4 separate regions of the Homo sapiens genome follow, and regions 1, 2 and 3 are each linked to region 4. Evidence: fine-mapped expression QTL. A gene starts in region 4. Each other region holds a variant in brackets. All regions are shown on one strand. Distances are from middle to middle. Region 1 overlaps ANXA3 (annexin A3). Region 2 holds the start of LOC101928893 (a long non-coding RNA gene). Region 3 overlaps BMP2K (BMP2 inducible kinase). Region 4 holds the start of LINC01094 (long intergenic non-protein coding RNA 1094).

Region 1 (8,110 bases), 38 kb after region 4:
ACAGATGTGAGTAGAAGGGTTAGAGGGTTACCTCATTGGGGCTTTTTTTTTTTCTGCAGAATTCTCTTGTGTGATCACTACTGTGTTCAAGTTCTCACCTTCTTCAAACTCACTCATGCACAGGTAAGGTTTTTTTGTTTTGTTTTGTTTTTGAGACGGGGTCTTGCTCTGTCACCCAGGCTGCAGTACGGTGGTGTGATCATAGCTTACTGCAGCCTCAAACTCCTGGGCTCAACTGATCATCCCACTTCAGTCTCTTGAGTAGCTGAGACTATAGGTGCACACTACCACACCCAGCTAATTTTTAAATTTTTCGTAGAGACAGAGTCTCCTGATGTTTCCTGGACTGGTCTCAAACCCCTGGGCTCAAGTGATCCTTCTGTCTCAGCCTCCCAACATGCTGGGATTAGAGGTGTGAGCCACTTTGCCCAGCCACAGATAAGTTTTAAAGTCCAGATGACCCGGATCTTAAGCCTTGGCTTTGCCACTGTGTAACCCTGGGCTGGATACCTAACCTGAGTCTCATTTTCCTCACTTGCAAAACAGGGGAAATATTGACACATGTAACCATGCTTTGTTTCAGAAAGTACTTAATACATAAGTGGTATAACAACTCTGAGGATGAATGAGATCTAAAATAAAGATTCACTGTATTAAATGCCTTTTATGTGCTGAGCACTGTTCTAATCTAAGCACTAGGCATTGAAAACTACAGTGGCCCTGGGATGGGATAAATTCTAAGGCAAAACAGTGGTTAAGAGCCTGGACACTGGAGTTGGACTACCTGGCTCTTACAGTGACAAGTTACTTAATTTCTCTAAGCTTCCATTTCCATTTCTATATCTGTGTTGGTATCTACATTGTAAGATGCCTTGAGGATTAACAAATTAAAATATACTACACTGTTTAACATAGTACCTAATACATAGTAAGCACTCTATGAGTATTAACATTGATTTATTGCTTCGTGATATACTTACTCACTAAATCACTTACACTAAAATCGTGAAGGCATACTTGACTGACACTTGGTAACTTTGAATACCATGTTTACTCAATTTTATCTCCCAAATATTTAAGTAGTTGTTTTCATTATCTCCTGCCATCATCTTAGTTATGACTGACATTTATAGTATTGATTACAGAACTAACTTGCCAAATGAGCTTCCTGACTCAAGCAATCCTCCCACCTCAGCCTCCCAAGTAGCTTGGACCACAGGCATGTGCCACCATGCCAGGCTAATTTTTGTATTTTTGGCAGAGACAGGGTCTCACTAGGTTGCCCAGGCTGGTCTCAAACTCCTGGGCTCAAGCAGTCCGCCTGCTAACCTCCCAAAGTGCTGAGATTACAGGCGTGAGCCACTGCACATGGCCAGTACGATCATTTCTATTCTGGTCCAGGAAAATAACTCTAACTGGAATTTTTTTCACTTTATCTATTTCATATCAGTCAAGGTATTTCATATTAGGTCCCACTCAAAGATGGCATGATGGATTCTTTAAATGCATAGTTTTGCCAACTCAAGAGAAAAGGAAACCTTAGAGGCTTGATTCTAAATGCCCATTCTGGGAAAGTAGTATTTAGCATGAAGCAACCATAATTCATGCTTGCCATTCAGACAGGAAGTGGTTAGATTAATCCTTCAGCAGATGTTTTCTGAAAGCTGAAATAACTTATCATGCATTACCACTCCTATAGCTTGATCACAACTACAAAGGGTAGGCCAGGGTCACATACATCTTCATCTTATTCCTTTCTTTCAAAAAAGTGTGATTAACAAGGTGATAAACTGAAGCAGTAACAGCTTCTATACAGAAACATGTTTTAAAATATTAGTTGTTGGCACCAGGCATCAAACAATGTTGGCAAGCTCTGAAAGCAAACAAAGAAATTACTTTTAACAAAAGCAACAATTTTTATTATCTTGCTTTATATTTAATGGAGTAGAACTATAAAGATTCTTAACTTTGAAAGCAGAAATATAAGTTGGATAGTAGTTGCAGATCTTTAATACCATTTTCAATTTCATTTATGAGCTGCTACATTATAAATGAGATGCTCTAAAATAATAATCGCTTTTGTTGTTGTTGTTATAGAACAATGAAAATTCCTGTTAGGAACACAAGTTGCTGTTTATATTTGCTTGTTCTCTTAAATAGTATGAGAAGAAGTAAGGTGGAGCTGTTGGGAAAGCCCATCGTGGACCTTTGGAGATTATCTTCTTGGTTCAGTCATCTCCACCACAGATTTTTAAGAGTGTGATTTCATAGTCTCCAGAAGTATCCGACTGCAAAGAATAAAATCAATGAAGAACAAATACAGTATAAATAATGGGAGACCATAAATGAATCAAATCCTATAGCACTAGGGAATTCACCTGGGTGTGAGACTCATGAGCTATACCATTTAGTAAAACATACCTGCAATTCCATCATTCATTCATACCTGAGTGTAATTACGTTCTGACCAGCATCTTCTTCACTGTAAGTAATATTTAGATTCTTCCTGATATACTGCAGTTAAATTTCAATTTTGGTTTAATAAAATAAGATTGCATCACTTACATAATATTGATTTCTATAAAAACTTCAAATTTTAGTTTTAATAATATTTATCGAACACTTGCTATTCAAAAGGCTTAATGTGTATTAACTACTTTAACCCTTTTAAAAGCTCTCTGCAATAGGTACTATACGTATCCCCCATTTAACAGATAAGTAAAATGAGAAAGACAGGTTAGGAAACTTGCCTCAAATCTTATCGAGAATAAGTGACAAAAGCAGGATTTGAATCCCTATATCCTGGCTCCTTAATACCCTGCTACACTGCCTAACTTAGGAAAGTGAAATGAACCACATTTTTAAAGAATATGTTTATCAGTTCCTTTTCCCAAGGCCAACCAAAAATAGACTGTTGTCCAGAAAAGATACTACGTGAGGTTGAGGCTTAAAGGGCAAAGATACCAAGTTTGTAACGCAAAAGACTTCACAGGAGGTAAAACTTGGCTTTCAACCTGGATTGTGTAAGATGCTCACATTATTTTTATTTTATTTGAGGTAACCCAACCAGTGAGCTCTTCTTATCACTTAAGTTTCACATTTGGAATGGCTGTTACTGGGGTGAATATTAGAGAAAGTGGTAATATAAAGGAAGTCTCAGAGAAGGCTCATTTAGTGAAGAAGTTAAGCATTACTTTCATAGTAAGACACAATAGGC[C/A]TTTATATATATTTTTCTGTTTTCTTTATTTCTTGTTCATTTGTCTGTTTCACAAAATATATGACAATATTCTTCGTTTTTATATAGATTTTAGTTCTTATGCTATTGGTTTTCCTGTCTTGCTCTGCAATAGCAGAGCTGACAAGTCAACAATGCTCCAGCTTTGTATTAAAAGAGCTCCTTCTAGACATCTCTGATCAGAGTTGTAAACAATTAGGCGTTCTACCAGTTAGTCAAGAAAATACATCCAAGTAACTCAAAGTATATTTACACCGCTAATGACTTACTTGACCTCTCCACATGTCTTACATGGCTCAAAGACATCTCAAACTCAATACATGTAAAACCAAACTCATAAACCTCCCCCCACTCCCCCAAAAGAAAAGGAAACAAACAAACAAACAAACAACCTAAAACCTGATCCTCTTGCAAGGAATGGCGCCACTGTCTGTTTTCCAAGTTAGGAACTTGAGTGTCATCCTTGCTATCTTCCTTTCCTCACACCAAGATATTATACCAAGTCCCTTAAGTTTCAACTCCTAAATATCTTTTGAGCCCTTCTTATTCTCCAGAATAAGAAGATCTTACAGGGATCTTTTCATGATCCTGATACTAACTCTTCAAGAGCTCATGCCCAGAACTCTTCAATGGCTTCCCCTTACTCTTAAGCTAAAGCCAAAATTCCTTAAACATTGCCAAAAAGGTCCTGCATGATCTGGCCCCCACATCCTCATTTTTCATTATGCTTCCTCCACCATGAGGCCTTTCCATTTGTCATTTCTTTTATTAGAATGTTCTACTGGCTCCCTTACCTCCATACATTTTGCCTTATTAATATCTACTTATTTTCCAGATCTGAATCATGACTTTCTCATAGAAGCCTTTCCTCTAAGTCAAGTCCTACTATTGTAGGATCTTTTAGCACAATGTCACTTTCCTTTACATTTAACATAGTTGTAATTCCATAAGGGCAGAAAATGTCTTCCCCCACCCTACCCCCTTTGCTTATAATTGTAACCCTGAGCCTAGCACATAATATGCATTTGATAATATTTTTAATTGAATGAGTGAATTCGCTGATCTCAAAGCTCTCTTTCAACTGAACTCATCTTGCTACTTGGATTTTATTTCTCAATATTCCCCAAGGTAGACCCTCTAATCAAACAAATGCCTTATTACTTCTTTCCCTCTTGCTTCTTCCCATATCTGTCTCTAGAGCATTTACTTTTAAGACCCTATTGATCTGGGGTCTTAAAGGTAAATGCTCCAGCAGAGCACCTGGCCCACAGGAGACACTCAACACATGCTTGTTGACCTGAAAGGCAGGCTCAAGACCCATTTCTCTAACCCCAAACTTCTTTTCTTCTCAATTCCGATAGTACTAGCTCTATATTCAACAATCTAGTATTTAATTGTCTGTTGTTTCAATTATTATCTTCTAATTGTTTCTTCATACCTACCTCAAGTCTCCACATAGATTATGAGTTGATTGTGAGTGGCTACTATATTTTCCCATAAAAAGCTTGGAATTGTGCTATTTATTAAATAAATACAGAATTTGTCTATGAAGGAAAACTACCAAAAAATATAATTTCATCTAAATTTTCCATAATATCTTCTTATAAAGTAGTAAGAGGTACACATTGGTTTTTCACCTCTGTTCTTCCTTGCCTTCTCCTTCCCACCGGTTACCCCCTGAGAAAGGTGTCAATGGACAAAGAAATGTCTAAACAATAGGTGGAAGGAAGAAAACAGGCAGGATGACAGGCTGAGATGATATGCAAAATGGAACTCTATCCCATGAATTTCAGAAACAACCATCTAAAAAGATCCTGTTCTTCAATAGCAAAAATGTAATGAGATTACTTAATAATATGTGTTAGGTGGTAGAAATAAAGAAATCTTGTACTATTTCAAACTGCAAACTGAAGTTTTCAGTGATGGATTTTTCTTTTCTATCAAACTACAAATAGTTTAAATGTTTTCTAATACAATAAGCCTCAATTACCCAGACCACTGGGGAACGGAGAGCCACTGGTTAATTTAATTTTCTGGTTTGCTGAGGGTGAACTGAAAGCCCTCTTTATGTCTCAACCTTGTTACTGACAATCTTTAGAAAATGTGTGAGTCTATTTTTCTGCCTTAGTAGCTACAACATGGTTAATGTTATTGAATCTTCCTCTGATGATTGAAACTATTGTGATGTGTCAGGACTGATTCAAATAGAATTGAGTGTGAGCAGTTGATGCAATTTGTGCTAAGTCCCAGGCACAGTCTGAGAATTGCCTTTTTGAGTAAGTTCCTGATTTCAACTTATGCATGCATCTCAGCATCTCTTTCTGTAAAAGTTTAGTGCAAAAACAAAAACTCTGATTAAAAAGAGAGAGAGAGAGATTTTAGTGAATGAATCTAGTTGACTGATTGATGTTCATTCATTCATTCATTCATTCAAAGGCCATTTGTAAAGTCAGAGGCAGAAACCTTCCCAAGATAGCTGCAGAAAGACCCAGGCTAATATTTGTGCCTGTTCAAGGGTGGCTATTGTGGGTAGGGCCATAGCGAAGGTTGGACCAAAGACTCCAGCTGCTGGCAGGGACACTGGAATGTGGTCTAAGCCAGGTGTCCCCAGGGGACATCGCTGAGTGTAAGCTCCCCCACAGAGGTAGTGCTCCAGCCTTGTAGGGGCTTGAGAGAGGGTGCTGCTACCCAGGATCAGGATGTGCATGGTGCATAATGATCCACAGCTTAGGGGGTCTAATCAGCATGGACTCCATTCCCAGTTTTAGACCCTCAGCACTCAGAGCAAACACTCTGCTTGGCTGCTGCTTCCCTCTTCATCCTGGATCACCTTCTAGGCCCCAAGTCTCAGCTTAGACCTTGGAGAGTTCACCTGGGTCCAATACTCTCTAGTGCTGATTTCCTCGAGACATTCAAGGGTAGATGGAGTAGCAAAGAGACGGAGAGGTCTGCATAGCCTGCAAGTCCTCTGCGAAGGCAGCCCTGACTCTGTCTTTTCCCCTGGTCAGTGTGGCCTTGGAGGCAAGGACAGTGGATTGCTCCACTCACCAACCCCAGCTTCCACTTTGTTCCAGGGAACCAGCTTGGACTAACACTCTCTATCACTCATTTACTAGAGACTTTCATATGTGGTCTGGAGCATCAAGGTAGAAAAGTAAATCAATGGAAGGCTACTGAGCAGGTGTGGGGCTAGCCCCTTAGTTCTCCACTAACTAGTTGCCATCTTCCTGTTGGGACTATGACTTTTGAACCACGAGCTTAAGGTACAGAAGCCTCTTGTACAATTTTTGTCAGGCTTACTGCCCTATTAATTCAAATAATTTGTAATTTATTTGAAGTTTCTATGTATAATATATCAACTGAGATCTGAAAACAATGAAAATGGGTTTCATGCTTTAAAAGAGAAAGGAAGGAGCCCATTTTAGGAAGATTCTCATCCAGAATGAAAGAAACAGAAGGGACCAGATTTTTTAAAAACTAAAATACTGTGAAAGATTGATAAATTTAATTAAATAAGATGTGCAACCTCTGCTTGGAAAAAAATACTTTTGGCCAAGTCAAAGGACAAAGAACGGACTGGGAAAATATGACCAGACAAAAGGCTAATCTACCTTATGTGAAAAACGTCTTAGAAACTGACCAAAAAGAACAAAAACCCAAAAGAATGTGGACAAAGAATGTAAAAAGACAGATCACAGAAAGAGAAATACAAATGTTATTTCAAACATGAAAATATATTCAGCCTTACTTATACTAAGAAAAATGTATATTACAACTACACTGAGATACAATTCCTCACCTATCAGATTATGAAAACCCAAAAGTTTACCTATAGTCCCAGCTACTTGGAGGCTAAGGCAAGAGGACTGCTCGAGCCCAGGAGTTCTAGGCTACAATGTATTATGATCGCACCTGTGAACAGCCACAGCACTTCAGCCTGGGCAACACAGCAAGACCCCATCTCTAAAAAATGTTTTAAAAACCTAAAAGTTTGAAAATACCCTCTGTGCCAAAGCTATGGAGAAAGAAGTTCTCATACATTCCTCATGGAATTGCAAAATGGAATTCAATTAGTAATATTTGTCAAAATTTAAAATGCATTTATATCTGTCTCAGAAATCCTACTTCTGAGAATTCATCCCAAAGATACACTCGTACCTGATGAAGTTGTGTATGCATTATACAACATTGTTTGCAATAGCAATAAACTGGAAGCCTCTGTTTGTTGTGGTGGGTACAAATATACAAACAATGGAATGATATACAGCTGTTAAATAAAATGAGAAAGTTTCCTATATACTGAAATGAAAAGCACTCTAAGCTGCAGAACCATGCTGTCTCATGTAAAACAGAGAGGAAATTTAAAATACGTATTTTTCTTTTCTTACATTGTCATAAAGACTGAAATAAATAAAAACAGTGCAATATAAAAAACAGGTAAACAACTTGCATATGTAATTCACAAAAGAAGAAAAATTAGTGGCTAGTACACCTAAAAAAATATTGAGTGTCTATTATATGCCTGGGATTTTAGAGCTGAAAATAAGGGATATTTTGCTGCTACTATTTTAAGCTCAGACAACACATTTATACATTGACAAGGAGAGAGAAATCTAAGTCAAATATCTTTATATTTTAAGGCATATAAGAGTAAGGAGATGGGTAGAGAAGGGCAAAATATGTTTTGCTATTTTTAAAAGTAGACTTACTTTAATTGCTGAATATAGGGAATAGCCATAATGCTTCTTGAACTCTGTTCGAATGTCCAAAAGGTCAATTTCTGATCTGGACACCATTATTCGGTTCAGAGTAAACTCATCAGTTCCAATACCCTGTTAAGGAATGCAGGTGTTCACAACACAAATGTCATTGGTC
Region 2 (8,110 bases), 70 kb before region 4:
GTTGTTTTTTTTTTTTTCACGGATAATTTATCATCTGTTGTTTTTAATTGAACCATTTTCACAGCATTTCATCCCTTAATACCTTAATACAAGCAGTAAGAACAAAGTCATTCTCCGCATAACTATAATATCATCATCACTTCTAAGTAATATAACATTGATTTAATATCATATAATATATTGTCAAGGGCCAAGGGAAAACTTCTGTCAGGCCTCTGAGCCCAAGCCAAGCCATCACATCCCCTGTGACTTGCACATATACGCCCAGATGGCCTGAAGTAACTGAAGAATCACAAAAGAAGTGAATATGCCCTGCCCCACCTTAACTGATGACATTCCACCATGAAAGAAGTGCAAATGGCCGGTCCTTGCCTTAAGTGATGACATTACCTTGTGAAGTCCTTTTCCTGGCTCATCCTGGCTCAGAAAGCACCCTCACTGAGCACCTTGTGACCCCCACTCCTGCCCGCCAGAGAACAAACCCCCTTTGACTGTAATTTTCCTTTACCTACCCAAATCCTATAAAACGGCCCCACCCTTATCTCCCTTCACTGACTCTCTTTTCAGACTCAGCCCACCTGCACCCAGGTGAAATAAACAGCCATGTTGCTCACACAAAGCCTGTTTGGTGGTCTCTTCACACAGATGTGCATGAAATTTGGTGCCGTGACTCAGATCGGGGGACCTCCCTTGGGAGATCAATCCCCTGTCCTCCTGTTCTTTGCTCCATGAGAAAGATCCACCTACAACCTCAGGTCCTCAGACTGACCAGCCCAAGGAACATCTCATCAATTTTAAATCAGGTAAGCAGCCTCTTCTTACTCTCTTCTCCAACCTCTCTCACTGTCCCTCAACCACTTTCTCCTTTCCACTCTTCAATCTCTCCCCTCTCTTAATTTCAATTCCTTTCATTTTCTGGGAGAGACAAAGGAGACACATTTTATCTGTGGACCCAAAACTCCGGCGCCGGTCACGGACTGGGAAGGCAGCCTTCCCTTGGTGTTTAATCATTGCAGGGACGCCTCTGTCATTATTCACCCATGTTTCAAAGGTGCCAGACCACGCAGGGACGCCTGCCTTGGTCCTTCACCCTTAGCAGCAAGTCCTGCTTTCCTGGGGAAGGGGCAAGTACCCCAACCCCTTCTCTCCTTGTGTCTACCCCTTCTCTGCTTTTCTGGGGGAGGGGCAAGTACCCCTCAACCCCTTCTCCTTCATTCTTAGCGGCAAGTCCCGCTTTTCTAGAAGAGGGGCAAGTACCCCAACCTCATATCTCTGCACCCCAATCCCTTATTTCCGTGCCCCAACCTCTTATATCTCTGTGCCCCAATCCCTTATTTCTGTGCCCCGACCTCTTATCTCTGCACCCCAATCCCTTATTTCCATGCCCCGATCCCTTATTTCCATGCCCTGATCCCTTATTTCTGTGCCCCAACCCCTTATTTCTGCACCCCATCCCTTATTTCCATGCCCTGACCTCCTATCTCTGTGCCCCAACCCCTTTTCCCACTTTTCTGGAAGGTAAGAACCCCCGAACCCCTTCCCTCCATTTCTCTACTCTCTCTTTTCTCTAGGCTTGCTTCCTTCATTATCATCAACCTTCCACCCTCCATTCCTCCTTCTACTCCCTTGGCCTGTGTTCTCAAAAACTTAAAACCTCTTCAACTCACACCTGACCTAAAACCTAAATGCCTTATTTTCTTCTGCAATGCCGCTTGACCCCAATACAAACTCGACAGTAGTTCCAAATAGCCAGAAAATGGCACTTTGAATTTTTCCATCCTGCAAGATCTAAATAATTCTTGCCGTAAAATAGGCAAACGGTCTGAGGTGCCTGACGTCCAGGCATTCTTTTACACATCAGTCCCTTCCTAGTCTCTGTGCCCAGTGCAACTCTTCCCAAATCTTCCTTCTGTCCCTCCCGCCTGTCCCCTCAGTACCAACCCCAAGCGTCGCTGAGTCTTTCTAATCTTCCCTTTCTACAGACCCATCTGACCTCTCCCTTCCTCCCCAGGCTGCTCCTCGCCAGGCCGAGCTAGGTCCCAATTCTTCCTCAGCCTCTGCTCCTCCACCCTATAATCTTTTTATCATCTCCCCTCCTCACACCTGGTCTGGCTTACAGTTTCGTTCCATGACTAGCCCTCCCCCTCCTGCCCAGCAATTTACTCTTAAAAAGGTGGCTGGAGATAAAGGCATAGTCAAGGTTAATGCTCCTTTTTCTTCATCCCAAATCAGAAGCGTTTAGGCTCTTTTTCATCAAATATAAAAATCCAGCCCAGTTCATGACTTGTTTGGCAGCAACCCTGAGACACTTTACAGCCCTAGACCCTAAAAAGTCAAAAGGCCGTCTTATTCTCAAAATACATTTTATTACCCAATCTGCTCCCAACATTAAATAAAACTCCAAAAATTAAATTCCCGCCCTCAAACCCCACAACAGGATTTAATTAACCTCGCCTTCAAGGTGTACAATAATAGAAAAAAGTTGCAATTCCTTGCCTCCACTGTGAGACAAACCCCAGCCACATCTCCAGCACACAAGAACTTCCAAACACCTGAACTGCAGCGACCAGGCGTTCCTCCAGAACCTCCTCCCACAGGAGCTTGCTACACGTGCCGGAAATCTGGCCACTAGGCCAAGGAATGCCTGCAGCCTGGGATTCCTATTAAGCCGCATCCCATCTGTGTGGGACCCCACTGAAAATCGGACTGTTCAACTCACCTGGCAGCCACTCCCAGAGCCCCTGGAACTCTGGCCCAAGGCTCTCTGACTGACTCCTTCCCAGATCTTCTCGGCTTAGCGGCTGAAGACTGACACTGCCTGATCACCTCGGAAGCCCCCTAGACCATCACGGACGCCAAGCTCCCAGTAACTCTCACAGTGGAAGGTAAGCCCATCCCCTTCTTAATCAATATGGAGGCTACCCACTCCACATTACCTTCTTTTCAAGGGCCTGTTTCCCTTGCCTCCATAACTGTTGTGGGTATTGACAGCCAGGCTTCTAAACCTCTTAAAACTCCCCATCTGGTGCCAACTTAGACAATACTCTTTTAAGCACTCCTTTTTAGTTATCCCCACCTGCCGGGTTCCCTTATTAGGCTGAGACACTTTAACTAAATTATCTGCTTCCCTGACTATTCCTGGACTACAGCTATATCTCATTGATGCCCTTCTTCCCAATCCAAAGCCTCCTTTGTGTCCTCCTCTTGTATCTCCCCATCTTAACCCACAAGTATAAGATACCTCTACTCCCTCCTTGGTGACCGATCATGCACCCCTTACCATCTCATTAAAACCTAATCACCCTTACCCCACTCAACGCCAATATCCCATCCCGCAGCACACTTTAAAAAGATTAAAGCCTGTTATCACTCGCCTGCTACAGCATGGCCTTTTAAAGCCTATAAACTCTCCCTACAATTCCCCCATTTTACCTGTCCTAAAACCAGAGAAGCCTTACAAGTTAGTTCAGGATCTGCGCCTTATCAACCAAATTGTTTTGCCTATCCACCCCACGGTGCCAAACCCATATACTCTCCTATCCTCAATACCTGCCTCTACAACCCATTATTCTGTTCTAGATCTCAAACATGCTTTCTTTACTATTCCTTTGCACCCTTAATCCCAGCCTCTCTTCGCTTTCACTTGGACTGACCCTGACACCCATCAAGCTCAGCAAATTACCTAGGCTGTACTGCCGCAAAGCTTCACAGACAGCCCCCATTACTTCAATCAAGCCCAAATTTCTTCCTCATCTGTTACCTATCTCGGCATAATTCTCATAAAAACTCACGTGCTCTCCCTGCCAATCGTGTCCGACTGACCCCTCAAACCCCAGCACCTTCTACAAAACAACAACTCCTTTCCTTCCTAGGCATGGTTAGCGCGGTCAGAATTCTTACACAAGAGCCAGGACCACACCCTGTAGCCTTTCTGTCCAAACTTGACCTTACTGTTTTAGCCTAGCCCTCATGTCTGCGTGCAGCAGCTGCCACTGCTGTAATACGTTTAGAGGCCCTCAAAATCACAAACTATGCTCAACTCACTCTCTACAGTTCTCATAACTTCCAAAATCTATTTTCTTCCTCATACCTGACACATATACTTTCTGCTTCCCGGCTCCTTCAGCTGTACTCACTCTTTGTTAAGTCTCCCACAATTACCATTGTTCCTGGCACGGACTTCAATCCGGCCTCCCACATTATTTCTGATACCACACCTGACCCCCATGGCTGTATCTCTCTGATCCACCTGACATTCACCCCATTTCCCCATATTTCCTTCTTTCCTGTTCCTCACCCTGATCACGCTTGATTTATTGATGGCAGTTCCACCAGGCCTAATCGCCACACACCAGCAAAGGCAGGCTATGCTATAGCACAAGCCACTAGCCCGCCTCTTAGAACCTCTCATTTCCTTTCCATCGTGGAAATCTATCCTCAAGGAAATAATTTCTCAGTGTTCCATCTGCTATTCTACTACTCCTTAGGGATTCTTCAGGCCCTCTCCCTTCCCTACACATCAAGCTCAAGGATTTGCCCCCACCCAGGACTGGCAAATTAGCTTTACTCAACATGCCCAAGTCAGGAAACTAAAATACCTTGTAGTCTAAATAGACACTTTCACTGAATAAGTAAAGGCCTTTCCTACAGGGTCTGAGAAGGCCACCACAGTCATTTCTTCTGTTCTGTCAGACATAATTCCTCAGTTTAGCCTTCCCACCTCAATACAGTCTGATAACAGATGAGCCTTTATTAGTCAAATCAGCCAAGCAGTTTTTCAGGCTCTTAGTATTCAGTGAAACCTTTATATCCCTTATGGTCCTCCATCTTCAAGAAAAGTAGAATGGACTAAAGGTCTTTTAAAAACACACCTCACCAAGCTCAGCCACCAACTTAAAAAGGA[T/C]TGGACAATACTTTTACCACTTTCCCTTCTCAGAATTCAGGCTTATCCTCGGAATGCTACAGGATACAGCCCATTTAAGCTCCTGTATAGACGCTCCTTTTTATTAGGTCCCAGTCTCATTCCAGACACCAGACCAACTTAGACTGTGCCCCAAAAAACTTGTCATCCCTACTACCTTCTGTCTAGTCATACTCCTATTCACCGTTCTCAACTACTCAAACATGCCCTGCTCTTGTTTACACTGCCGGTTTACACTGTTTTTCCAAGCCATCACAGCTGATATCTCCTGGTGCTATCCCCAAACTGCCACTCTTAACTCTTGAAGTAAATAAATAATCTTTGCTGGCAGGACTATGCTGAATCTCCTTAGGCAGTCTCTAATCAGATATCCTGAGTCATCCCAATTCTTAGACCTTTTATACCTGTTTTTCTCCTTTTGTTATTCCATTTAGTTTTTCAATTCATACAAAACCGTATCCAGGCCATCATCAATCATTCTATATGACAAATGTTTCTTCTAACATCCCCACAATATCACCCCTTACCACAAGACCTCCCTTCAGCTTAATCTCTCCCACTCTAGGTTCCCACGCCGCCCCTAATCCCGCTTGAAGCAGCCCTGAGAAACATCGCCCATTCTCTCTCCATACCACCCCCCAAAAATTTTCGCTGCCCCAACACTTCGACACTATTTTGTTTTATTTTTCTTATTAATATAAGAAGGCAGGAATGTCAGGCCTCTGAGCCCAAGCCAAGCCATCGCTTCCCCTGTGACTTGCACGTATATGCCCAGATGGCCTGAAGTAACTGAAGAATCACAAAAGAAGTGAATATGCCCTGCCCCACCTTAACTGATGACATTCCACCACGAAAGAAGTGAAAATGGCCGGTCCTTGCCTTAAGTGATGACATTACCTTGTGAAAGTCCTTTTCCTGGCTCATCTTGGCTCAAAAATCACCCCCACTGAGCACCTTGTGACCCCCCACTCCTGCCCGCCAGAGAACAAACCCCCTTTGACTGTAATTTTCCTTTACCTACCCAAATCCTATAAAACGGCCCCACCCTTATCTCCCTTCACTGACTCTCTTTTTGGACTCAGCCCACCTGCCCCCAGGTGAAATAAACAGCCATGTTGCTCACACAAAGCCTGTTTGGCGGTCTCTTCACACGGACGCACATGAAAACTTCCCCTTTGCCTTCTGAAGTTTTGCTGATAATCACTGACAAGAGGTAGATTAATAAAAGAAAGGGCATACGAATTTATTTGATCATGGTTTTAGGTGACACAGGAGCCTTCAGAATGAAGACCCAAAGATATAGGGGAAACTGTCCATTTTAATGCTTATGTTCAACATGATTGGACAAAAAGAGAAAATCCGATGCTAATAGACTGAGTGGGAAAACCCAGTAAGGCCTGTCTGTTCATATTCTTGACCTCTTTGAGAATACATTCCTTCCTTCTGAGTATAGGGCCAGACCCCCTCTGGAATAGAGGTCTTATGACCTACAGTCAAACAAAGTTGGTCACATAGTTTCTTAAGGACCAGTTTTTACAAAGAAAGTTTGAGGGGAGGGTTAAGTAACATTTTAGGTTTTATGGCTGGCTTTGAGGAAAAGGGGTTCTGGTTTCTATGACCTTCTTTGGGGAAGAGGGATTCTCATTTCTGTAACTAACCTCAAGGAAGAATGGGACTGAGGACAGGAGAGCAGGAAAAGGTCAGAGAAATGCTTTTCCTTCTGAGGCTGCTTCTGAGGTCTTCATTTGGGAGTATTGCTTTCTAATCCCAACAATATTATATCCAAATAGATCATATTCAAACACCTCAATTGTCCCATAGATTTTTTTCAACTTTTTATTTTTGTTTTTGATCCAAGATCCAAACAGCTTCATGCATTATATTTGCTTGTACAGTCTCTTAAATTCCTTTTGATTTAGATTAGAACATTCTCCCTGCTTTTCCACCTCATTCCTCATCACATTTTCTTTTAAACATCTAGGAGCATGCTGGGTGTGGTGGCTCACACCTGTAATCCCAGCATTTTGGGAGGCCGAGATGGGTGAATTGCTTGAGCTCAGGAGTTCAAGACCAGCCTGGACAACATGGCAAAACTCCATCTCTATGAAAAATACAAAAATTAGCCATGTGTGGTGGCATGTGCCTGTAGTACCAGCTACTTGGGAGGCTGAGGTGGGAGGATTATTTGAGTCTGGGAGGTCAAGGCTGCAGTGAGCTGTGATCATGCCACTGCACTCTAGCCTGGGTGATGGAGTGAGATCTTGACTCCAAATCAAACAACCAAAAATCCCAAAAACCATCTAGGGCAGTTATCTTGTAGAATATACCACAATCTAGATTTTACTAATTTTTTAAAATCCTAGTTTGTTTCAGATTTATGTTTATTTAAACTGAAGCTATTAAACGTGATTTTGGGGAGGAATTGCTACCATGAGCCAAAAATCTTGGAGCTAAACTGCATTATAAACTTTCAATTAGACTAAATGAAATTATCTAGAACCAAGGTGGGCAAACTACTGCTTCCCATAGGCCAAATCTGACTCACCAAATCTTATTAATAACATTGTGTTGGATCTCAGCTACACCATTTCTATGTAAAATATGTAAAAGATATGGCTGCTTTCTACTTTCCTTCTATGAAGGCAGATTTGAATAGGTATAACAGAGACTATGTGGCCTGTAAAGCCTAAATTATTTACTATCTGGCCTGTCAAAAAACAGAATGACAACAAATTCAGTTTAAAGATCTAATTTGTTTTATTTGTGATTCTAGAACCACATAAAACCTCATTCTGTAAAATAGAATAAGTGCTCCAATGAGCTGAGCAGAGGAGCTTAGCTTTATAGACAGAAAGGGGCTGAAAAAAGCAGAAACAGAGCGAAAAGTGGAATCGTCATTTCAACGTTACTTTCCTTGTAAATGTTAAAGTCGAGGGGACTTCTTTATCATGCAGCTAAAACTGGCCTATTTGGAAAATTGGCTGTTATCTCTTTCTGCCTCCGGATTTCTCAGATAAACATGTTGGTTTCATCTTGGTGGCATGGAACTTCAGCATGAGTGACTACATTTTGGTTTGGTCTGTTGGGCCTAGTACAAAAGCTCAACCCAAACCAATGGCCTTCTATAAATTTTATCCTTTAATAGAATATGTTTGCTGATTTCTGATCTAGAACAATAAATACAAATAT
Region 3 (8,110 bases), 260 kb before region 4:
ACTATATTCACATTAATTCACATATGTAATCTCTATCATTAAATGATTTCTATAAAACCTCAAGTTTCTAATTAGGATTTGTGGTGTAAAAAAAGGCAAATTGGTAGCTGGGTTCTTTTCAGTAAAGACACAATCAACTAGCAGAATTAAGATGCTAGTCCACCTTATATGCATTTTAGGATCTGGTATATTAGTGCAGAGGTACTTGCAGCAGGATGCATGAATCCTGCCTTTATATAAGGCTTTGTGGGTGTCACCATTCTGTGCACTTTATTAAAACTACTCCACCCCCCAAAACCTAATAAAAATAATTGTTGCTTATGACTTGGGGAATATTTGGTGAAGTTGCTAATAAAGTACATTGTTAAATGCAACATGATTTCACATTGTAAATGTCTTGAAAATTCAGTTTCCGCTACATATTTTCTTCATAAAATAAAATTTTTATACAACCCTTGTCCTCCAATTTTTCCAATAATCTGCTTTATTAGGGCCATCACAATAAAAGTTTGGGGCAAGAAGCCATGCATAAAGTGTTTCTAAAGTAGTGAATGTTTTCTGTTCTGTATCTTTTTTTCTTCTTATAATTTCTTTACAAATGTCAGATATTTCTCTTCATATTTTTGTTCTAGGCTTCTGTGCGACGATAGTCCATTTTTTTAATTTGTTTTAACTGACAAAAATTATATATATTTATCATGTATAACATTGTTTTGGAATATGTAAGTTGTGGAATAGTTAAATTGAGCTAATTACACATTATTTCATATGCTTATCATTAGATATTCCATTTTAATGGCACTTGTTTTTAAAAATGAAACAGAGTTTTAGGCACAATAGTCAGTTACTTCTGGCTCTGCTTTGTGGAGAAAGGTGTATGGACTGAAATCTCTGCACTCTCCAGATAATAACTTTCTAATGCTTTAAGATAACTAGATTGTTTTTAACTGTCTGGAAATTAAAAGAGACCTTAAAAAAAATTCACAAGTGTAACTAGTGTATGTAGAAATAACCCTAATTTTAGGGATATGCACATAAAAATGACATTCTGATATCAAAAATAACAGTTTCACTGTCCCTTCTCAGTGGCTACACACCTAGAAAGGTGCCATGTGCTTTCACTGGAAGTACCACACTTGCATTTCTGTGTTGTGATGTCAGTAGCAGAAACCCTTAGTTAGAGCTTGCAATTTAGCTCCCTTTTCTCCTGAAGAGGAATCAAGTTACTACCCTGTAGAGATACTTCATTCTTCTATTTGGTTTATTTAGAAATCACCTATTCTGACTGATCTTTAAGAATGAATGCTATAAAGAGCTACCAAATTTTCTTTCAAATTCATAAAACTGTTCACACTTTTTTGAAACAGGAGTTAATGCCGAGAATCCATCAGAAGTATCTACTGTTTAGAAGGAAATGGAGCAGCACCAAATGGGTCTAATTCGACTGGTTGGGACTGTTGGGACTGATGTGGAGTGATGCTTTGCACCACAAGTTCTGTAAAGGGCACGGCACCAAAATCATCCATTTTCAATACATCTGCACTATGGAATGACCCATGTAGTGAATTTTGTCTTGGCCGCCCTGGCAGGACAGTATTGTGATCAGCACGGATGTCGCTCAGGCCCTGATGTGGAGGGTGCCATGACAGGTCTGGAGAATGGAAGGGCTTGGCACCGAAGGGGTCCAACAGGCTCTCCTCAGGTTGTAAGACATTCCCCCTATCTTTCCCATCAGTCAGTGCAACACTAATGTTCTCCTTGGAGTCTGAGATGGTTAAAAATTCATTGCTACTTTGAGAGTCTCGGCGGCCCACTTTTTTGTGCCTGCGAGCCCTCTCTGGAGTGCGATAGGTAGGCTTCAAAGTCTTCTTTGTGCTAGTTGGCGTGCCATGATGCCGCTTCCCATTACTTTTGGACATATCCTGCTTTGTGCGCCTTTGGCGAGAGGACAGTTTCTGTAAGCTGCGCTGTTTGACTTTTTGCTGCTGGCTCCCCGTTATTTCATCAAAGGGCACAAGCCCAAAAAGGTCCTCATTGCTTTCACTTTTACTTGTTGATGTGAGGAAGGGCTGAAATGGAGTGGAGCCAAATACATCTACACTTTTGGGATAACCAGGGATAGTATGTGCCTCAGGCCCCACTGCATGGCATTCTTGTACATTCACCTTCTTGCTAAAAGGCGCCTTTGTGAATACATCAAATTCCTCCTGCTCCAGTCCTGCAGCAGGAAACCTGTGTTGAGGGAGGTTCTTTTCATTCTTTTCTTGCTGGGGCTGTTGAGCACGCACTGCAAAGAAGGGGACAGCGCCAAATACATCAAACTCCTGTTTGGGAGTCTCCACTGCAACATCAGAGGATAATTGGGCTGAGGTGAGGAGTATTGTATTAAGATCTTGGGTTGGTCCACTGCCAGATCTGTCTCTGTAGACAGAGCTCATGTCACTGTACTTTGCTTTAGCCTGCTCATAATCAGAATCAGAGCTATGTTTCTCCTCTTCTTCCTCATCTTCAGAATCCATGAGGAGAGGCCTATGACCCAGATTTTCTGGTTCAGTATCATCATCATTAAAATCTCCTTGTTCCCCCTGAAGAACTTCTTCATCATCTTGCTCTTCCTCTTCACTGCTCTTAGGAGAAGGGGGATCTGATTCAAAATCACTTTCAGATTCATCATTCCCCTTTTGCACTTGACCCTGTACTGAGGTTTTCTTTCCAGTCCGCTGATCTTTAGATGCTGGACTTGTTTTACCGTTCTTGATAGGGTTTGCAGTGCCATTTTCTTGATTTATAGATGAATGTTCAGCTTTCTTTTCAGGAGAACCTGCAAGTTCAAATAAATATTATTACAGCATTCCAATGCATTTCAGAATCCTCTTGCACTAAATGTTAATATGTATTACACATGGCATTACAAATCCCTCATACGAGTTCCCTTAGAGGAAAAAATAATGTTGTCAATTCTTCGTCATTAGACTTAGAGAATGCATTTGACCTCAGGTAGATAGTTAAGTCTTAATGTAGACAGACTTATTCATATCTGGACCCTACACCCTGCCTCATCGTACTCTCACTGACAGCCAAATTTTATTTATAGCACACAGAATGTAGTAGACTAGCAAATTTTCTTCACCCCACCACCAAAATAACATTATTCTGCTAATTCTGAAAGCTCAGATTTCACATTCACCAAATACCTCCTGCTTATATTTCAACTCTTGTAAAGTTTTCCCATAGAGATCAACAAGCATGAACAGCCTGCCTGCTCAGTTACGTATTTGTTTCACTATTTTTTTAAATCAGCATTGTATTTTTTATAAACCACTATCTTTTGAATTGACTTAGCATGAATGGCCTCACCAAAGCTAAGGACCAGATACTAAATGGAGACTGTACCAAAAACATCTGCCTTCTCTAGATGATATGACTTCCTTTAATTATAATATCTATACATTACATTAAAAAAGCGAGATTCCTTTAAAAACAAATCTAAACCATCTGGAGATGTTTTTAGCTCAGAATCCATTCAGTCACTTCATTTTCTGAGTTCATTCAACGAAAGAAATATAGGGCACTTTGCTATACACTGATTATACATTGGTGAGTAAAAGAAACATGGTTTCTGCTTTCAGGGGTTTACAGTCAGAGGTTGTAAGTAAACATAAATTGTGACTAGTGCTCTGAAATAAAGGACAGCAGGGAAATGGGCGCATAAACCTACTTTGGACAGTGGTGAAGACCTCCCTAAGGAGACGACAGTTAGGATTGAACAATGAGAAGGAGCCCAGCCATGCAAAGGATAAGCTGGAAGCAGCTTCCAATAAAAGCAATGGCATATATAAAGACATATTTAAGGGGCTGAAAATAGGCTATTGTGGCTGGAATATAGTGAGCAAGGGAGGATCAGGTACAACATGAGGTAAGGAAGACTGGAAAAGGCCAGACTGTGAAGGTCCTCTAAGGCCATGATAAGCAGCGTATATTTCATTATACATCTAATTCAAAATTCCATGTATAATGGAAAGCTATTATTAAAATAGGTGTCATGATTAGGTTTACATAAAAAAAAATGACTGCTCTATAGAAAAACACTAAGGGGGCTGGGTGCGGTGGCTCACCCCTGTAATCCCAGCACTTTGGGAGGCCAAGGCGGGTGGATCACGAGGTCAGGAGTTTGAGACCAGCCTGGCCAACATGGTGAAACCCCATCTCTACTAAAAATAGAAAAATTAGCCAGGCATGTTGGCAGGTGCCAGCTGAGCCAGGAGAATCGCTTGAAACTGGAAGACAGAGGTTGCAGTGAGCCAAGATCGCACCACTGCACTCCAGTCTGGGCCAAAGAGCGAACTGTCTCAAAAAAAAAAAAAAAAAAAAAAAAGACTAAGGGAAGGTAAGAAGGGGAGTTCAGGCAAAAGGAAATTATAGTAATGCAAGTTAGAGATTTTGGTGGCCTAGATGACATGACAGTGGTGGCAGGGTGGGTCAAAGTAGAAAAAATAGAGATTGAAAACTCTTGGTGGATGGCAGCACCATTAACAGAAAGAAAAGAATGAGTGGCGTGATAGAAACCCATTTACCCTGATGTGATTATTATGCACTGTATACCTGTATCAACATATCTCATGTACCCCATAAATGTATATACCTACTATGTACCCACACACAAATTTTAATGAGCATAATTTTTTAAAAAATGAGTAAGTTGGAAAGTGAAGAGGAGTACTAAAAATTTTGTTTGGAGACATTAAGCTTGACATATGTGTGAGACAACATTTAAGTGTACAG[C/G]AGTTAGGTATCTGTGATTTGAAACCAATGGTTAGTTTTTGGCTGAAGAAAATAGATTTGGGAGTTATCACCATGCAGTTGGTATGCAGAGAGAGCCACAAGACTAAAGGGCATACCTCGGAAGAAAACATAGAAGAAAAGAAGATCCAAAACTGAGCCCTCAGTATAAAACATTCAGAAGTCAGCAGAGGAAGATGAACATACAAAACAAACTACAAAGTAACAGCCAGAGAGGAGGAAGAAAACAGCTGAGTGCAATGTCACAGAAATGGAGAGAGAAGAATGTTTGAGGGAGGTAACAGACAACTGAGCTGGATGGTGCAAAGAGGTCCAGTAAACTAAGGACATAAAATGGCCACTGGATCTGGTCATCTTGTATAGTTTGTTGGCAATGTTGACATGAGTAGTGGTGCTAAAGAATGTGTGGGAGACAAGTATGTGAAGAATACCACCAGGTTATACTTAATTGCAAATATAATCTTCTGTCAGTTCCTTAAAACCAGCCAAGAGCTACATGCTGTATTTGTTATCCTTCCAGATTAAAAGCAAATCAAATGCAGATTCTCAAGTTTGACTTCTTCCCTACACAGCGTATTTATGATATTAAAAACAAAGTTAATTTTAGTGAATTTATTTTTATGAATTTTTATTCAAAAGCAAAATATGGGAAGAAGGGAAAAATGAAAATAAAATATGTACGGTTCCAGAAGATTTCCCATCATCCCTGACTGTGAAACGTTTAACGTATTACTCCTCGAGCTGCATACCCACCCACAGCCACAACATTCACACCTCACGCCTGCTCACGGACACCTCCAAGTAACATTCCAATGTTGCCCAAAGTGTATTCTGCAGAGGCTATTTCCCTAACAAGAACCAAGACAAACAGTTCTGTGGTCTCAAGCAAACAAGTCTATGAAATGGTGCACTCTGCATTCTGCCTCCACTCCTACTCACCTGGAGTATGCTCATTAAAGGTGCTAATGAGTCCTACACAAAAGAATCTAATTTTATGAACCCTAGGATTTCCCAAATTGTCTTCACTACCCTTTTATTTACATGTAATGCCTGTTAACCTTTAAAACCAACTATGCAAAAGTACTTTGGGGAAATGCTGCTATACAACTTATCTTGAAATTTTCCATTTCTAGTTGTGTTCCTGAAGGTCTTCTGGAACATTTAACGTAGGACAGATAATTCATCTTGGAGAGTGTCACTTGGAAGTGAATTTAAATTCGCCTTCTTTTTAAAATTATTACATTGTACTCCCTAGTCTTCTTAAAATTTACTGTTTTCATTATTCAACTGGCTACCATTACTTTTCAGAAGACATCTGTCACTTTATACTTCTCATTCTGTTGGCCCTTTGTCCATTTATCAAAGTTGTATTAATAGAAATACACATTTATAATTGTCAGTGTGGGTATAAATCTGTGGGTTTTTAACTTACTATTTTTAATGCATCTTTTCAGGTATCAACAGTCTATTATTTATTCTGATAGAAATATGATAAAATATTCCATATATAACTGTTCACTATTTAGCAATAGAATATTTAGGTTGTTTCTAGTTTTTCGGCATTTTAGATACAACCATGATTCATGCACTTTTTCCTTCAAGGAGTAAAAAGGAAACCCTCCTTTTTTAGTATCAATTTCACTTTATTTATATACTATGATTCCCTCCTCATGGGTAATTAACACAGCTACTAAAGCTAACCCAATAATAATCCTGACAAGGTCACCACTATTCCACTTTCTTTATACACAAAATGGGATAACACATTTTATATCATAGAGCTATTGTGAAGAAAGGACTTAGAACGGTGCCTGAACACATAATAAGCACTCTACCATCATCATGTCCTGGGAATGGCCAAATTCAATTATTTTATCCATCATACCCAATAAGCTTCTAGTAACTTTTCTGGGCCCAGTGGTTGCAGGTGAATATAAATGAGGGAGAAGTGTAGGGAGAAGCAAGTCTATGGCTAATTCAAGAGGAGCTGAGATCCACTTCAGAACTGACCAGAAGTAAGTAGACCAACAAATGTATATCCACACAGCATAAGGGTACATTTTAGATCCTGGAAATTCTATTTTTGATTTTTAGACAGCTATATTTGAGAACACAGTATAAGAAATGGAAACACACTTTCAAAAAGAGCAAGAAAAGACACAATCATCTATACCACCTTTGTGCTTTCAGGTTACATCTGCAAATAGTACGGGCAACTGGGGAAATTTTCTGTTGGTGTAGATAGACTGGTTTTACTTATTTTGCCCCCCTACATAAAACTAAAATAACAATCAAAAATATTTATCCAAATTCCTGTTTTCTCCCATATTCTTGCAACCCACACTGACATTGTTTAAATATTTCACTCTACACTTTTACTGCTGTTATAAACTTATAAAAAGTAAAGAGCAGTAATGAGGCTCTCTGAAAGCATACTAAGACAAACTATTAATCCTTTTATCTCTCCAGTACCTCCTGCTGAGGAAAAGTTAGGTTCCAGGCTGCAAGTTACCACAATCCAAGGTAAGTTTCTGCAGTAGCAGTGATCTACTTAATCATCTATTCATCATGAAACTACAGAAGAGCTGGGAAAGAAAGGTGAATTACACAAAAATAAAAAGTATTTCAGTATATTCTAAGGCTTTCAGTCCTATTCCATAGACATAAAAGACTGTCAGAATAAGTATTTTAAGTTATAAAGTTGGTTATAACTATACAATGCACAGCACTTTAGAATGTGACCTCTAGCTAAGAATGCCATAAACCTTCATACTCCATTTCTTTGCCTAAACATATTCCTATAATTTAAAAAAAAAAATTTCAGATCTTCCCACTATTTGTGTCTGGGGCCAGATTCCCACTAGTTGTTAGATTAAATAATACACATTTGATTTACTATGAAATTTAATCAGGATTATTTCACTGCTAAAGTTAATTTCCCAAAAGTATAAGCCTAAATATGTTGCTTTATAATTCAATATACCCTAAATCCTAATAATCCCCATATTTACTGAGATCTGTATTATTAACATAAAAATAGCTGTTCTTCAAGTAGGTGGGAGATGGGGGTATAATATTTAGAATAAGCACTAACAACATGTATTTACAGCATTAAAAACTGTGTAGATGGTGCACAGAATCATAACTCATTTACATTATTTTAGTATACTGTGAAATTTCATATATTCACCCACTGTTTTTATTTTTGGCTCTAAGTAATGTATTTCTTCTTTTTCTTTAACTAAATATGGTAGAATGATATTTTGATGGTTTCTAGTCAAGATATTCTTTATTTCTGTTTTTGTGCTTT
Region 4 (8,110 bases):
CAGATCAGCAGTCTGGTATTGGACATACACATTTGAGATGATTATTAGTCATCCAAAGAGAGATGTCATGTAGGAAATTAGATATCAAGTCAAGACACACGGGAGAAATCTGGGCTGGAGATATGAAAATGTGAGTGTTGTCAACCTATACATGGTATTGAAAGAAAAGAAGACAGATATTTATGTGCATAGAGACAGGCAAGTGGGTAAGAGGTGGTGGAGGGAGCTTGTGGAAGGTCTCTACTGCATGCTTCAATTTTCCCAGTGGAATGAGAAGCCAGGTTATCCATAGGGAGTTTCTAGTTAAGGGACAGGAGGAATGGCACACGCCTAGCTGTAGAGTAAGAGTGATTCCCAGTAATAACTGCCAGACTACTAGTCTTTATCTGGCCTAAGTTTCCCAGACTCTGGAAGTCTAGGGCTCATTCTGTCAGTGTCTCTCTTTGGTCCACCATCCCAGGCTTCAGTTTTTCTCACCTGTATCTTTGTGGTAGGGTAAACATACAACGTGGCTCTTTCCTAAACAGGGACTTTAGTATCCTGGCTCAGAGAACCTGCTCTTCCAAGTCATTTGAATGTAGCGTGCCTGGAAAGAAGAAGAAGGAACCATAGAGTTCAACAGCTTCAAACCTTGCTCCATGTTTTTTTACGTGAATCCTAGGGAAACAATTTTATTTGTGGTAAAAGATTTATATGTACAGATGTCCATAAGTGTTATTTATAATTTAAAAATGTGGAAACACTCTAAGCATCCCAAGAAGGGGAACTTTTAAATAAATTGTCATACACCTGTAAGATAAAATATTATATAAGCATTAAAAGCAATGTTTACAACAATGCTTAATAACATGGCAAATGACTATAATATGTTAGATAAAAAATTAATATAGAGGTCAGTTGGATTGTGAGAGATTTTCTCACTCTAGGAAGATTCTTCAATCACTATGTCAACAGACACAGATGTTTCCCTTTCTTCCTATGATAAAGATCAAGGATCCAAACTTGTTCGAAAAGTTGAAGAGCCACCATTTGTTCTCACTGGAATGGCAGGCTTTCCAGCAATTGTTCCATAAGGATTATACAAATGGAAGAGCAGAGGAAATGCTAAAAGGTCCCTTCTCCTGATCCACATGTGTTGTAGAAGCAATGACTGTTGGTATGGGCTGTTCTGTGTATTAGGAATTCTGGGCAAAGCCTAAGCCTTGGAAGGAGGATGCTGTCTTGATCTTGTAAGAGGACCTTACTTTAGTTAGACATCTCATTATTGAGGTTACATGTTTATGTTGGAAATAAATTATTTGAGTGGGTTCAGACGATAACACGGTATTTTGAATACTGGCTTCCTTTCTTGCATGCTTGATTTGCCTGGTGACCAAATTACTAGTGACTAGTTCACTAACTAGGTCATTCAGGGAAGTCAAGTTAACACAAAGGAAACATGTCACCTAATTCCACTTGATGATGTTAAAACTTTAAAACCACCTTCTTAGACTGTAAAGATTAAATTAGGACCGGGTGTGGTGGCTCATTCCTGTAATCCCAGCACTTTGAGAGGCCAAGGCGGGTGGATCACTAGAGGCCAGGAGTTTGAGACCAGCCTGGCCAACATAGCAAAACCCTGTCTCTACCAAAAATACATACACACACACACACACACACACACACACACACACACACACACACACAATTAGCTGAGGGTGGTGACACATGCCTGTAATCCCAGCTCCTTGGGAGACTGAGCCATGAGAATCACCGGAACCTGGGAGGCGGAGGTTGCAGTTACTGTACTCCAGCCTGGGTGATAGAGGGAGACAGAAAAGAAAGATGAAAGAAGGGAAGAAAGAAAGAAAGAAAGAAAGAGAGAGAGAGAGGGAGGGAGGGAGGGAGGAAGGAAGGAAGGAAGGAAGGAAGGAAGGAAGGAAGGGAGAAAGAAAGAAGAAAAAAGAAAAGAAACAGAAAAGAAAAGAAAGGAAAAGAAAAGAAAAGAAAAGAAAGAAGAAATTAGTTCTAAAGAAGATAGCTGGCGATCCCTGAAGTATTCCCAGTTTGCTGAAGAATTTCACATGCTTTGTATGTTATATAGGAGTCTTATCTGCCCTGGTTAATCTAACTTTTCTTCTTCCTGTCTTGTGAACTGGCTGTCTCTATTAGAACTTTTCTGAAACGTGCATGGAATACATTAACAACTTGTAACGCCTCTCACAACTCTTAAGTGTATGTATGTGTGTCTAAACCGAATCAAGAAAGCTTACAATAGAGCTTCATAGTAACAGTATTTATTTCAGAATCATAATTGTAAACATGAGAATAACTTAATTATGAACTCCAGTTTAGCTCTTTTATAAGTGCAGAATTATATTTTAGCTGCTGTTATATTAGAATAATTTTTAAATGTCATCCTATTTTAAGCACTCATGCTAAGGTAAGTGAAGAACACTTTTCAAATTTTCTCCAGAAGAATCATAAACAAGAAACTAAACAAATTACCTATAATGAAAGTGACTAATGAGCAAGCGGGTTTGGCCAGATACTATACACAAACTTTGATAAAAGGCAAAATGCTTAATTTATATATATATATTTTTAGATGGGGTCTTGCTCTGTCACCCAGGCTCTAGAGTGCAGTGGCATGATCACAGCTCGCTGAAGCCTTAACTTCCCAGACTCAAGCAATCTTACCACATCAGCCTCCAGAGTAGCTGGGACTACAGGTGCACACCACCACGCCCAGCTAATTAGAATGCTTTATTACACTTGTGAAATTTTCTTGTCTAACCTGAATTTACATTCTATAGTGATAACATAGCATATGTATTGTTATTAAAGTGACTATGTAAAAAAATTAATATAAAACTGTATATACAATATGATTCCAATTTTTTACTTTCATATGTGCAGAGAACACAGAATGAAAAGAAATAGTCCTAATAATTATTTGTCAGTGGTCGACTTGGGTTTTTTTCTATGTTATATAGCTCTGTGTTTTCTAAATATTCAGTCAGAAGCAGATATTTTTCTTATCATTACATGTTTAAATTATGGTGGAGAATTTTCAGCAAATATTAAAATAAGGAACTCCTTGGGAGGCCGAGGCGGGCGGATCATGAGGTCAGGAGTTTGAGACCAGCCTGGCCAATATGGTGAAACCCCGTCTCTACTAAAAATACAAAAATTAGCCAGGCGTAGTGGTGGGTGCCTGTAGTCCCAGCTACTTGAGAGGCTGAGGCGGGAGAACTGCTTGAACCCAATAGGCGGAGGCTGCAGTGAGCCGAGATCGCGCCACTGCACTCCAGCCTGGGCGACAGAGCGAGACTCCATCTCAAAAAGAAAAAAAAAAGGAACTCCTGAGTTATCCCCAGTCCTCCTTGGGTCACTCTGTCCAGCTTCTGATTCCTCTGCTTATTTTAGCTGCAGGCTTTATGAGATCTCCCTAGTATTTGGTACCTCATTCCTGGACTAAGTGGTCAAACGTGTGTAATGGGGCAAAAGGCCTTAGGATGTTGAATAATCGCTGAGCAGGTGGTAAACCTGTGACACTGATGTGATGGATGTAGGAGTGGTCTCCTTGCAGCCCTGGAGCCTTTCATCAGAGTAGGATTTCACCCATCTGAGCTGGCAACAAGCCCTGTTATTCCCAGGACATCTAGAATTCATCAATCGTGCCTGGATTGTTTATTCACTTCACTCATGCTCCTGAATTCTTTGTAGCAGAGTCATTTCCTGTTTAATTCTCTCCAAAGTTTCCCCCTTTGGCCCAGGACTGAAAATTATCTGTTCTACAGTGCATAAAATATTTTTCACAAAGGTAAGCCGTTAGTTATGTATTAGTCTGTTCTGGAAAAAAAAAGTCAAAATAGTTGAGACCTACAGTTAGTCCATGTGATCTGGAAGTGACCAATAGTCATCACAGGGGGTGCACTTACCTAAATCGAATCCGTGTGTATCATTTTCTGCGTTGGTAAGTAGATCCACGTTTTCCTTTGGGAGGCTCACTTTAATATCCTTCTGCTTCTTTAAGATTGGGAAACCACCCAGGCCTCCCAGCTCTTGGCAAGCAACACTCTGACTTCATGTTGTTACTCAGCATTTTGTTCCTTATTGAAATGCCTGGCTCTGCACAACTGGTTTGTAAAGTCTGAAGATCCCCTGGCCATGCCCAGAAACAGCAGCCTCAGGAAGACAGAACTGAAAAGAACACACAGTGAGAACGAGAAGGGCTTTACAGCTCCGGTCAGCCTGACTCAAACCTGTGTTAATAGCCCAGACTCTTGTTGCTCCATCCAGACCTTCCTCTCTCTTCTAGTCACAATCCTACACACCCTTCTAGTAGGAACTCAAAAGCCACCTCACTCAGCCTAAAGTAATCTATCCCTCTTCTGTGTTTCTTATAATACTTTTATTTACTTTGTCTTACAAATTTTCCTTGTATCATACTTACTTATGTATGTATGTCTTCCTACGAGGTTGTAAGTGTTCAGGAAAATTAGAATGATCCAGTTTAGCTTGTACACTTCTCCTTGAGCACAATGCCTTGTACTTATTAAATAAAAATGCTTGAATTGCATGGAATTGAATCAAAATCTAAGAAAATAATCTGCTTTAGAATAGATCTGAGAATGCTGAGTAATGCACAACTCCTGCCTTCTTTGGGGGGACCTGAAACCTTAGGGGGACTTCAATTACTTCTGGATTTGGTATAGCTTCAGCAAAGGCAAGATTTCCCAGGGTTGCTATGGCCTACAGGAATATCAGCCTCCATTGGTCTTAGTGTCTGGCTTTAAATGGTAATGGAATCACACTGATTTTTTATGTTCGTATAGTAACATCATAAAGATACTGAAAATACTGGCAGTATGAAAGGAGAAAAGCAAATTCATTTCTTTTTTGAAAGATAAATCTCATTCATAAGGGATTAAACTTTTATTGTAGATAAGGTGAAATTTGGTAAGTTAAAATGAGAAGAATTTCAAAATGCTTTGTTGGGTGAAAAAAACCTTCTAAAGTAGTATGTTTATTATGATTCTTTTTTTGGTAAAAACAAATTTAAAAAGATAACTTCTATATAAAGTATATGTATACACGCCTGGGGAAAGCATTTGGAAAATTATACAGGCATTAATTTCTCCTACAGTTAAAGTGTCCCTAACAAAAATTGGACATAGCACAATTAGCTGCTTATTGAACATAATTTAATGAATCACTGTTAGTAATAACCAGAACTGACTGGGAACTGGGAAATGATAAAAAGCTGCTGCTTCCCCTGGCTGTAATGGACTGTACTGCAGGCAGACCTGCATGGCAACAGTGATGAGGCATTAGACGGTGCTGAATACGTGGCGGAAAGTGTAAGGAAGTTTGTGTTTCCTTTTGTAGGTTTTGATCTACCTTTTTAAAATTAAAGCTAGCAATAACCAAATACATTTATGGTTATGAAAACAAATTTATTGTTAAAATTACTATTTTTAAAATTCTGTTCTACTGTGAGTTTTAACATTTCTGTTCCCATTAAAACATTTTTTTTTAAAAAAGTTAGTTTTAAATTGCAATTTGGCTTAATTTTAATAGGAGATACACTTTTAAAGGACAAAATCTAAAAGGCACATGCTAGTATTTCTAAATGAGAAATTTTTGTTCCATCCCTATTCCCCAGCCATCCTTCTCCAATTTCAACCAGTGTTACCTGTTTCTTTACATTCTTTTGATAAGTTGAGATTTCTTAGAAATGCACCTATTTTGCAACAGTAGAATAGGCTATATACTAAAATACTAACTGTAGTTATTTTCAAACAACAGGATAATAGGAAATATTTATCTCTTTATAGTTTTCTGGATTATTTTTTTCCCCAGTAAGTAAAAGAATTAAAGATAATTTCTAAAACCATTTTGTTGGACTCTGTGTGACAGCATGCCTAAATATTACATTGTCATCACTTTTTAATTATTCCATTTCTCTGCTTCTGGTCTTTAGTCTTGGTTAACAGTATGGCAATGCAAAAAAAAATTTCCTTTTACCTACTTTCTCTTCCTTCCTCTTCCTCAGTCCATACCTCATGAAAAAAGTAAAATTGCATCAAAGTCATATTCTGAAAAGAAATTTCTTATTAAAATTTTCACTGGGGTTTCTGAATATAATTTGACTCATTCTAATTAAATCAGATTAATTAATACCTGCTATGCTTGGTTCACTAAAGATGTTTTAAGTAACAGCAATAATAATAGCAAATTCTTAGGACACATTTATCTTGCTGGGTTAGGTAGGAAAAGATTATATTTATTTTTTAAATGATTAATGAAATAAAGAAAAGCTTGGAGATTGGAGGTGGGATAATGGTAATTGTCCATATTTACATTTTGAAAATACATATTTTTGAGCTACTTTCACTATGCCTGGAATTAACAATTTTGCTAGACCTTTTCCAGATGTGAGAATTTGATCAATAGCACCATTTATCCATAACTACAATGTATCTGCCTTGGAGTAGACCACCTCGGGCCCAGGAAAACATCAGCTCTGGCCTTGTGGCTATGCCACCTGCAAATACAACCCCAAATTTTCCTTACTGGGTGTTCTCTTCTGTATCCTCTCTCCCTTCCCTTGTTATTTATCTCATTTTTCCTTCTTTCAGGAGGCCAATGTAAGCCTAGAGTGGTAGAGTGGAATGAGCATGGATACAGGACTTTGGGAGCCAGGATTCGTATCTAGTTCTCTGCTAAACTAGGTGTCTTAGGCAAATCACCTCAGTATTCTGGTTTCCTTCTCTTCCTTCTTTCCACAAATATTTGCAGAGCTCCTACCCAGTGCTAAAGACTATTCTAGGTGCTAAGATGTAAAGATGAACAAGACATGACCACTGCACTTAGAGACTGTGTACTTTGTCTCTCCAGCTGTCCCTGAGAAAGCTGCATCTCAAGACAGCAGCTTAAGTGAGTTTGTGGTTCTGCCCACCTGCTGTCTGGCCAGTGAGGAAGTGTGTCTAATGTGGGCACCTACTGGGCTCCTCAGTGGCAAAAGAGGAGCCTAGAGATGGAAGACATGGAGTATAGTAGGGACACAAGGCTCTGTTAGATGGTGTCAGGGAGCAAAAGGTGGCAGCAGTGACAGCAGCAATTTGGCTCTATGCCCTTGGACAATGCAGGGTGTGGCTAGGGCTGCTGTGGTCAGAAGGAAAAGCAACTGTGCTTTTCTGGGTAGAACATCAAGTGAAGACAGTTAGCCGAGGTAGCATGATTTGTTACGATTGACTGTCAGAAAGAGTCACAAGAATGCAGGCTTACCTTGAGCCTTGGGTTAGAAAGATAATGAGTTTGGAAGTCAAGGAGAGGCCAGTGAATTTGATGCAAATCATTTCATGAAATTAAACCCCTTATTCTATGGGACTCTTCTTTCTCTTCCTGGGACTTGGCATTCTTTATGTCTTGACATTTATTGGATGAATGTATGAATGGAAAATCTTCACAGAACTTAAATGTACATTGAGAACACATCACATCCTTGGTGGAAAACTGGGAGGCTGGTAATCAAGAGCTGAACATTTTATTTCATGAAATAATATCACATAAAATGCTATAATTGAGTGAATGGTCTCGTCAACAATTTTACTCATAGAGAGGGCTCACTGCAAGGCCAGATGGAGTAAAGTGGAGAAGGGGAGAAGGCTAGTCCTGTCCCCATGCATCTCAGGGATTCTCTGAGCAAATGACTTCTCCTATAAGCATGAAAACCTAGGAGGGAGATTTTTATTGCCAGCTCACGAAGGGTGCCGGGTGGGGACAGAAAGAGGACAAGGCTTGGAGGAAATGATTAGAGAGTGAAATTTCATTTTCACATTTTGCTGCTTATTTTTGGCCAAGACAAACACTTTCTGAGACTCAGCTTCCTTTTCTGTAAAATGTCACCTCCCATCCCCTTTTCTGAATTTCTTCCTATTAGAGGTGGGGTCCCTAGGACCCTGGGCAGTGGACTGTTACTGGTCTGTGGCCTGTTAGGAACCGGGCCACACAGCAGGAGGTGAGCAGCAAGCGAGTGAGCATTACCGCCTGAGCTCTGCCTCCCATCAGATCAGCAGTGGCATTAGATTCTCACAGGAGCATGAACCGTATTGTGAACTGC

Evidence for each region.
Region 1: its variant is fine-mapped to the expression of LINC01094 in whole blood (TOPMed, PIP above 0.99).
Region 2: its variant is fine-mapped to the expression of LINC01094 in whole blood (TOPMed, PIP 0.93).
Region 3: its variant is fine-mapped to the expression of LINC01094 in whole blood (TOPMed, PIP above 0.99).

What each region holds. Positions count from the first base shown.
Region 1 is chr4:78,604,234-78,612,343 of GRCh38, reverse strand. ANXA3 (annexin A3) reads right to left here. Exons shown (of 13, transcript NM_005139.3): 12 at 7,945-8,067; 13 at 1,897-2,288. The coding sequence ends at 2,229. Among named protein-coding and RNA genes, the nearest start is that of LINC01094, 38 kb to the left of the region's middle. The variant C/A (reference allele first, on the strand shown) is at 3,218.
Region 2 is chr4:78,711,817-78,719,926 of GRCh38, reverse strand. It overlaps LOC101928893 (a long non-coding RNA gene), which reads right to left and starts at 3,846. Exons shown (of 3, transcript NR_188357.1): 1 at 3,792-3,846. RefSeq lists enhancers at 271-841, 842-1,413, 4,164-5,110. The variant T/C (reference allele first, on the strand shown) is at 4,904.
Region 3 is chr4:78,905,321-78,913,430 of GRCh38, reverse strand. BMP2K (BMP2 inducible kinase) reads right to left here. Exons shown (of 16, transcript NM_198892.2): 16 at 1-2,821. The coding sequence ends at 1,398. It overlaps PAQR3 (progestin and adipoQ receptor family member 3), which reads left to right. Exons shown (of 6, transcript NM_001040202.2): 6 at 1-1,553. Among named protein-coding and RNA genes, the nearest start is that of PAQR3, 30 kb to the left of the region's middle. The variant C/G (reference allele first, on the strand shown) is at 4,783.
Region 4 is chr4:78,642,077-78,650,186 of GRCh38, reverse strand. LINC01094 (long intergenic non-protein coding RNA 1094) reads right to left here and starts at 4,193. Exons shown (of 3, transcript NR_038308.1): 1 at 3,924-4,193. It also overlaps the pseudogene HIGD1AP13. RefSeq lists an enhancer at 3,357-4,556.